Linked DNA regions of Homo sapiens. The protein of the gene in region 1 purifies or fractionates together with the protein of each later gene. This does not show direct contact. Each region holds a gene or a part of one and is shown on either strand. Other genes may lie near its edges.

Region 1 (3,749 bases):
TGAGAAGAGGAAAGTTTGAATACAGACACACACACACAGGGGAAAGGCCCTGGGGAGACGTGGGGAGAGGTCGGAGTGATGCTGCCGCCAGCCCAGGAATGCCAAGGATTGCCGAGGCCCCAGGAGCCAGAAGAGGTGAGGAGGGAGCCTCTGCTGGAACCTTCCGGGTGGGTGCAGCCCTGCAATGCCCTGGGTTTGGCCTTCTGGCCTCCAGAAGCATGCGGATCCGTTTCTGTGGGTTTAAGCCAGTCTGCAGATCTTTGTTGCAGGCGCCCTGGGACACCCACGCAGGGTCTTTGGAGGATGACGCAGGTTTGGGAGGTGGCTGAGCCCCTAGGGAGGGCCAATTGCTTTTCAATTCTCTAACACCTTTTTTGTGGTACTTGGCTTTTTATTATTTTATTATTGTTTGTTTTTTTGACACAGGGTCTTGCTCTGTCACCCAGGCTGGAGTGCAGTGGTGTGATTGCAGCTCACTGCAGCCTCTACCTCCTGGACTCCAGCAATCCTCCTGCCTTGGCCTCATATATATATATATGTGTGTGTATATATATATATATATACATATATATATGTATATATATATGTATATATATATTATATGCAGTCTTGCTTTGTCACCCAGGCTGGAGTGCAGTGGTGCGATCTCAGCTCACTGCAACTTCCACCTCCTGGGTTCATGCAATTCTCCTGTCTCAGCCTCCCAAGTAGCTGGGATTACAAGCATGCACCATCATGCCTGGCTAATGTTTGTATTTTTAGTAGAGATGGGGTTTCGCCATGTTGGCCAGGCAGGTCTCGAACTCCTGACCTCCAGTGATCCGCCCGCCTCAGCCTCTCAAAGTGCTGGGATTACAGGCGTGGGCCACTGAGCCTGGCCCCATATTTGGCTTTTTAAAAACCTATGTCTGTATTGTCTACAGCCTGGGCAGATCTGTCAGGGAGGTGTTGGGTGGAAAATGGAAAGGATGGAAGGGAGAGGGAGAGGCTGACACAGCCAGCTGGAGGGGCGGGCAGGGGAGGGGAGCCATGGGAGCCAGCGGGGAGCCCGCCACACTCCCCTCCTCCTGAAGCCTTCTGGGGTTGCTGCCCTGGCTGTGGCCACGGGTTTAAGGACCCCCCTGGTCATTTTTCTTTGTCCCGGATCTGTTGCTACCAACGGTGAGGATTCCTAATGGTCCCCTTGGCTCTGTCCTGTGCCTGGAGCAAGGACCTCTCCCCTTTATCCTGCACGACACGGCTCTGTGCCATCTGGTTTCTCAGGCCCTCCCACCCCCAGGCCCCGTCACAGGGCAGTACTCACCGGTGACCAGGGTGAAGTGGCAGGGGCTGGTCATGGTGACAAAGGCGGGGGTCATGTAGCGTGCCTTCACCCCGTCTCGGGCCATGGCGTCCAGGTTGGGGGTGTCCACGTCCTGGTCGTAGTTCCAGCGGAAGCCGTCGAAGGACACCAGGAGCAGCTTGTTCTGGGAGCCCTGACTTTGTACCGGTGCTCCGGCCCCGGGAGCCAGGAGCGTGGCCAGAGCCACAGTGAGGAGGACGGCCGGGCCTCTCATGCTGGGCCTTCCAGATGGACAGGCACACAGGGTGCACAGGGCTGGCTCCTGCCGAGGAGGACAAAGTCCCAGGGTCACCCGGGCTGATCTCATCCCGTGCGCCTTTGGAATGTGGCTGTGCACATCCCCGGGTCGAACCTCGGGAGTGGGCTCCCCAGCCGTGTCAGTGCCACCCCTGGTCCCAGCCTCACGTGCGTGGGGTGGCATCAACTTGAGCATCTGCCTTTATTGCCAGCCGCGCCCTTGGTGCTCCAGGCTCCTCCCCTCCCTCCCCAGAGTGGGGACAGTGACCCAGGGCTCAGAGCACAGCAGGAGCCCATTCCACTGGGAAAGTCGTGCCCTCTCCCTCTCCCATAGCAACAGGTGGTCCCTCTGTCCCAGCTCACCCTGACCCCAGGGGACCCAGGTGAGGCTGGGGTGGGACCCCCTCTCCAGGCCTTTAGTGGTGCATGGGCCTCAGGCCTGCCTGGGTGAGGGCCTGTGGGGTGGGCTTCCCATGGTCAGGGCCAGGACCAAGCCTGGGTCACAGCATGGCCTTGTCCGGGGGGAACCCCAGGCTGGGTGCCTGTTCTCCTCCTGGTCCTGTTAAGGGGCTCCTTGAGCGTGGTGAGCAGACCGGGAACCGGATGGCTCCAGACCAGCGTCCTGTGGGCCTTCCTTCTTGGGATGCTTCCTTCTTGGGATGCTTCCTTCTTGGGAATTTCAGAGGGTGCCTGGGGCTCGGACGTTCTTGCTTGATGACAACAAGGGGTCAGAAGAGGGGGACTCCCTTGTTACCATAGGCACATGAAGGGTGGGAGAGGAACCCCTGGATTCAGTGTGCGGTTCTCCCTCCCTCTCCCCCATCTCTCCTTCCCCTTCTCTTATTTTCTCTCTCTTTCTCTGTCTCTCTCCCTCTTTCCTTCCCTGTATGTCTCTGTCTCAGTTCCTATTAAGCACGTTCTGTGTGCCAGGCATGGTTCTAGGTTCTGGGGACACAGAAGTGAATGAGACAGACAATGTTCCTCGTGGCCTCCATTCGAGTTGGGGACACAGAAGATAAAATGAACAAACAAGAAAAAAAGAGTTTCCCAAAAGAAGGGAAGGCAGGAAGACGTGATGGAGAGGCTGGCGGGGTGGGTGGGCGGCACGCAGTGGTGGCTGGTGGGGTTTCGCTGAGAGGATGGTGGAGGCCAGTGACTCTGGGGGACCATGAGCTAGGGGAGCGGGCATGGGGCAGGTGGCAGGGGTGGCAGGGCCAGTCCCGTAGGGCAGGTGGCGGTGATTCTCATGCCAGGCAGTGGAAGCCAGGCGGGGGTTTTAAGCAAGAGAGTGACATGAACTGATCTAATGCTAAAATATACTCTCCATTTGTGGGTGAAGGATAGACCAGAACGAGGGCAGAATGGACACTGGGTGCTCCCTGGAGAGGTGACTGCCTGTGTCTGAGCAAGAGCTATTGGTGGCCCGGACCAGGGTGGTGGCTGTGGGATGGGGCTGGGTTTGAGGCGGATCCTGGAGGTTTTGCTGGGAGGTGGTGCGCTGGATTGCATGGTGGGAGGTGGTGCACTGGATTGCGCGGTGGGAAGACGGAAGGGCATGGTTGGAGGTATTGTCACAATTTCAATCTGGAGCCACACACCTGCCGACAGTGGCCCCGGCCTTCCTTAAGACCTTTGGCTGGCTGCAGCAAGCAGACGCCGTCTCGAAGCGATGGCCGTGGCACTCAGATGACACCGCAGACGCCGTCCACAGCCTCCCCAGGCCAGCCAGCCTTTCCTAACCCAGGTGGGCAGGGACCACTGGTACGGATCCCCGGCTGCCCCTGCCTGGCCGACTGGAACACACTCTCAAGGAGGACTCCGTGCCAGTGACCCCTCTTCTTCATGCTTCTGTGCACCAAAAGCTGAAAACCAGGATGGAGCGACTGCCCGGTGCCTGCAACCACCGCGTGGGGTGCCTGCTCTGCAGGGCTGGGGCTCAGGGCACCCAGAGGTTTGGCTCCTCCCTGGGGAGCACAGACCTTGGGGAGGGTAAGGATCCCTGTGAGTCAGGGACACAGGTTACGATGCACGCACAGGGGGAATGCAGGCGGCCTCGGGAGAGGAGATCGGGCTTTGCTGGCACCAGCGTTGTGGGAGGCCCACAGGATGCATGGAGCCAGGAGAGAGGGCGGGAAGGCTTCAGGCAGAGGGACCAGGCATGGAGGAAGGG
Region 2 (3,749 bases), on another chromosome or scaffold:
TGTTACCTCATTTAATCCTCACAATATCCATATAATTGTATAAGGCAGAAACCACTATTTTTCAGATGATGAAACTGAAGCCTAGTGAGATCATGACTGCCCACAGCCACACAACCACTAAGTGGAATGGCCAGCACCTGTGCCCAGGTAGCCAGGCTCCAGAGCCCAGGCACATCGTGATTATGCTGTGGTCCTTTATTCTCAGGTACCACCTACCTGTTAATATACATCACACACAAGAACAAAGACGATGTGTGAATGAAAAGCCTACACCCTTTAAAAATAATTCTAACATAACTGCAGGTTCAGACTGAGTTATGTTGGCAAAGCTGCCTGTGAAAACCTGCTCTGGGAGATCTGCCCACACACTACACTAATTAATCTACTTTCATAAAGACCATGGGACTGATTTTTATCTACGAGGCATGAAATGCATGTTCAGGAGCTTTGTTTCCACCAGAAAACCATCCAAACCAAATTGGATGATTTTTTAAGTTTTTCAGCTAATATCTCAATTTTTAAAAATTTCCCACCCTTACTGAGCCAAGATGGAAAATAAAATATATCATAGTCAATGTGAGAAAGACAACAAAGGAAAAAATAGATTTTTTAAAAAATCTTTAAAAAAAGGTTAACACTCCATTAACTCTCCAGGATTTTAGGGCAAAAAGAAAAAGCGAGTTACAGACACATTTATAGAGCACATTCCACCCCAGTAACTCAATGGGAAGATGGAAGTAGGATTGGCAGCATTTAAAAAATGGTGCCCCCAAACCAGCAGGCACTCACCTGGAGACGCCCATGCAGAGTTCCCAAAATTTCAGTAGGCATTTTCAGTTTAGGTTTTTGGGAGTTTTTGGTTTTAAGGGTTCTTTTGTTTTTGTTTTTGAGATAGAATTTCACTGTGTTGTCCAGGCTGGTCTCAAACTCCTGGGCTCAAGCAATCCTCCCACCTCAGCCTCCCAAGCTCTGGGATTACGGTTGTGAGCCACTGCACTCAGCCTCTAGCATTTTTTCTTAAATCAGGTTTACATGAAACTAATGATGATGAATTCATTAATGAGGGAGAAAGGTTATATTCTTTATTACTTGAAGTGACTCTTGTTCAGGAAAACTACTGAAAGTTTACAAATGAAAATGTCAAATTGTAGCAAGAGAAGGGAAAATAAAACAGAAATTATGGTTTCAAGGACATCACGAAAATTAAATTATTTTATATGCCTTAACAGATGAGAGGACAGTTCTCAAAATGTTCTTAATTTCTTTTTTCTTGATTTGGCAAGGAACTCCTTTCACAGTAAGGAAAGAGAAAAAAAATATGGGAAGAGACAAAGGGACAGACTCACTCTCCACCCAAAACAGTAATCTGACTTGATTTTAAATGCCAATAGCTGTGCCATCTTCTTTCCTCTGGTAATTATTACCTGCTGAACTTTTACTACGTTTTGCCAGTTATGTTTATTTAACTAACTCTTTATGCAAAGGAAGATAAGATTAGGAACATAGTTCTAATCACTATGGAGCTGATGGCAATGATGCTGATAGTGGTAGAGGCAGTGACAGTGGTAACAGTGACAAGCAATCTTTTGAATCTCACTACTAGAAAGGCATTGATACACCTTCCCAGAACTCTGCAAAGTGTAGCAGAAATACTTTTTCTAAAGGTCTATTATTCACCAAAAAAAAAAAAAAAGCCCATAATCGCTGGGCACGGTGGCTCACGCCTATAATCCTAGCACTTTGGGAGGCCGAGGCAGGCAGGTCACGAGGTCAGGAGTTCAAGACCAACCTGGCTAACACAGTGAAACCTCGTCTCTACTAAAAATACAAAAAATTAGCCAGGCATGGTGGCACATGCCTGTAGTCCCAGTTACTCGGAAGGCTGAGGCAGGAGAATCGCTTGAACCAGGGAGGCAGAGGTTGCAGTGAGCCGAGATCGCACCACTGCACTCCAGCCTGGGTGACAGAGTGAGACTGTGTCTCAAAAAAAAAAAAAAAAAAAAAAAAAAAAACTACAATCAATCCCCAATAAATGTAGAATTAATGTATTTTTAAATGAATAACAGTAATATAACCTACACTCCTGGCCATAAAAGTGGAAATGTAAATAAAATCTCCCCCATATCTGTCAAACAAACAAATGAACTCTTCCCTGAAGAAATGCCATACTTTTTCACCTTTATTAAATACATTCTCCATTTGAACAATTTAGTTATTACTATTTCCAACACAAATTGAGCCAGAAATCTATTGTGGTTTGGGTAAAACACCTCCCTATCCTGAGGATTTCTAAGAAATCCAAAACTGCTGGAAATAAGCTACTAAGACACAGTCTACTGCCTTACCCAACTTTACTAGAAGATAAATCTTTATTAAAACCAACCTTCTGTTGGGGGGCTGGGGGTGGCTCATAGGAAAATGAAACAATCAGGCTCATACCCATAATCCCAGCACTTCGGGAGGCTGAGGCAGGAAGATCGCTTGAGCCCAGGAGTTCAAGACCAGTCTGGGCAACATAGCAAGACCCCATCTCTACAAAAAAAAAAAAAATTTTAAACCTAGCATGCTGGCACTTGCCTGTAGTCCCAGCTGATTCAGGAGGCTGAGACAGCAGGATCACTTGAGCCCAAGAATTCCAAGTTGCAGTGAGCTATGATTTCACCACTGCACTCTGGCCTGGGCAACAGAGTGAGACTCTGTCCCTTAAAAATAAAAGGTATTTATTTGTTGGTGTTTGGTGTTTATGTGATGGAGAAAAAACAAAACATGAATCCACATCCAGATACTTGAAGATCCAGACCCCTGATTTAGAAGTCCTGGTTTATCTACATATTGTTACAACTGGAGAAGCCAGATAAAGCAAAGGATGTGAAGACAAGCAGGGAGAAGTGTCTTGATCCTCAAGTCCTCACATTACAGGAAGCATCTGCTCTGAGAACAATAACTCCCAGCCTCTGATAATACAGTAACATTCTCCTTTGAAACAGGAGAGTGCTCCTAGCAATGGCATTTTCAATGAAACTCTATGTCAATAGAGTCAAAAACAGCCCATGAAAGAAGCAGCGTTTTCCCTCCTTCCTTCCCACAGATCCATTCTGCTCCCAGGACAGCTTTGCCCGCCCCAGTCTTGAGTACTTGAACTTTCCTATGGGCATACAAGGAACCCTTCTCCCAAAAGAAGATCTAAGAATAAAGCTGAAAACCAAGCCACAACAACATGCACCCCAATGTAGGTACTATTTGTTGCAAAAAAAAAGAGAGACTGATAACAGAGATCACAGAAAAGACCTAACAGGTGAAATTCTAGAATTAGAGTATGTAAATGTCCAAGCAAAGCTCAAATATTTATCAAAAACATCCATATATATTCTGGATCTCTGCATTGCAGGAAAACTGCCACACTAGTGGAGCCAATATTATAAATTCTTTTTTTTTTAACTTTTATTTTAGTTTCAGGGATACACGTGCAGGTTTGTTATATAGGTAAAATGCCTGTCATAGGGCTTTAGTGTACATGTTATTTCATCATCCAGGTGATAAGTGTGGTACCCAATAGGTGGTTTTTTAATACCCTCCCTCTTCCCACTCATAAATTCTTAATGAATAAATAATGAATGTGGAACTACCTTAAGTATTATGTCCTGTGATTTAATATTTCAATATTTTCTTTAGCGACTATCATAAGATCAGGGGTCATTCATTTTCAGAAATGATAGTCCAATAACGAAAGTTGAAGTCTGCCCCCATGT

The links. Proteins that work in one complex are often made in the same cells at the same time.
Region 2: the proteins of ENPP7 (region 1) and CD109 purify together in Homo sapiens (affinity purification with mass spectrometry; 2 studies listed by BioGRID and IntAct, with this or other methods). This does not show direct contact.

What each region holds. Positions count from the first base shown.
Region 1 is NC_000017.11:79,728,947-79,732,695, reverse strand, and holds the start of ENPP7 (ectonucleotide pyrophosphatase/phosphodiesterase family member 7 precursor), read right to left. Parts: upstream 1,754-3,749; 5' UTR 1,650-1,753; coding exon of another isoform or gene 1,557-1,649; coding exon 1,304-1,556; intron 1-1,303. UniProt on the Homo sapiens protein: Choline-specific phosphodiesterase that hydrolyzes sphingomyelin releasing the ceramide and phosphocholine and therefore is involved in sphingomyelin digestion, ceramide formation, and fatty acid (FA) absorption in the gastrointestinal tract.
Region 2 is NC_000006.12:73,699,054-73,702,802, reverse strand, and holds part of CD109 (CD109 antigen isoform 1 preproprotein), read right to left. Parts: intron 1-3,749. UniProt on the Homo sapiens protein: Modulates negatively TGFB1 signaling in keratinocytes.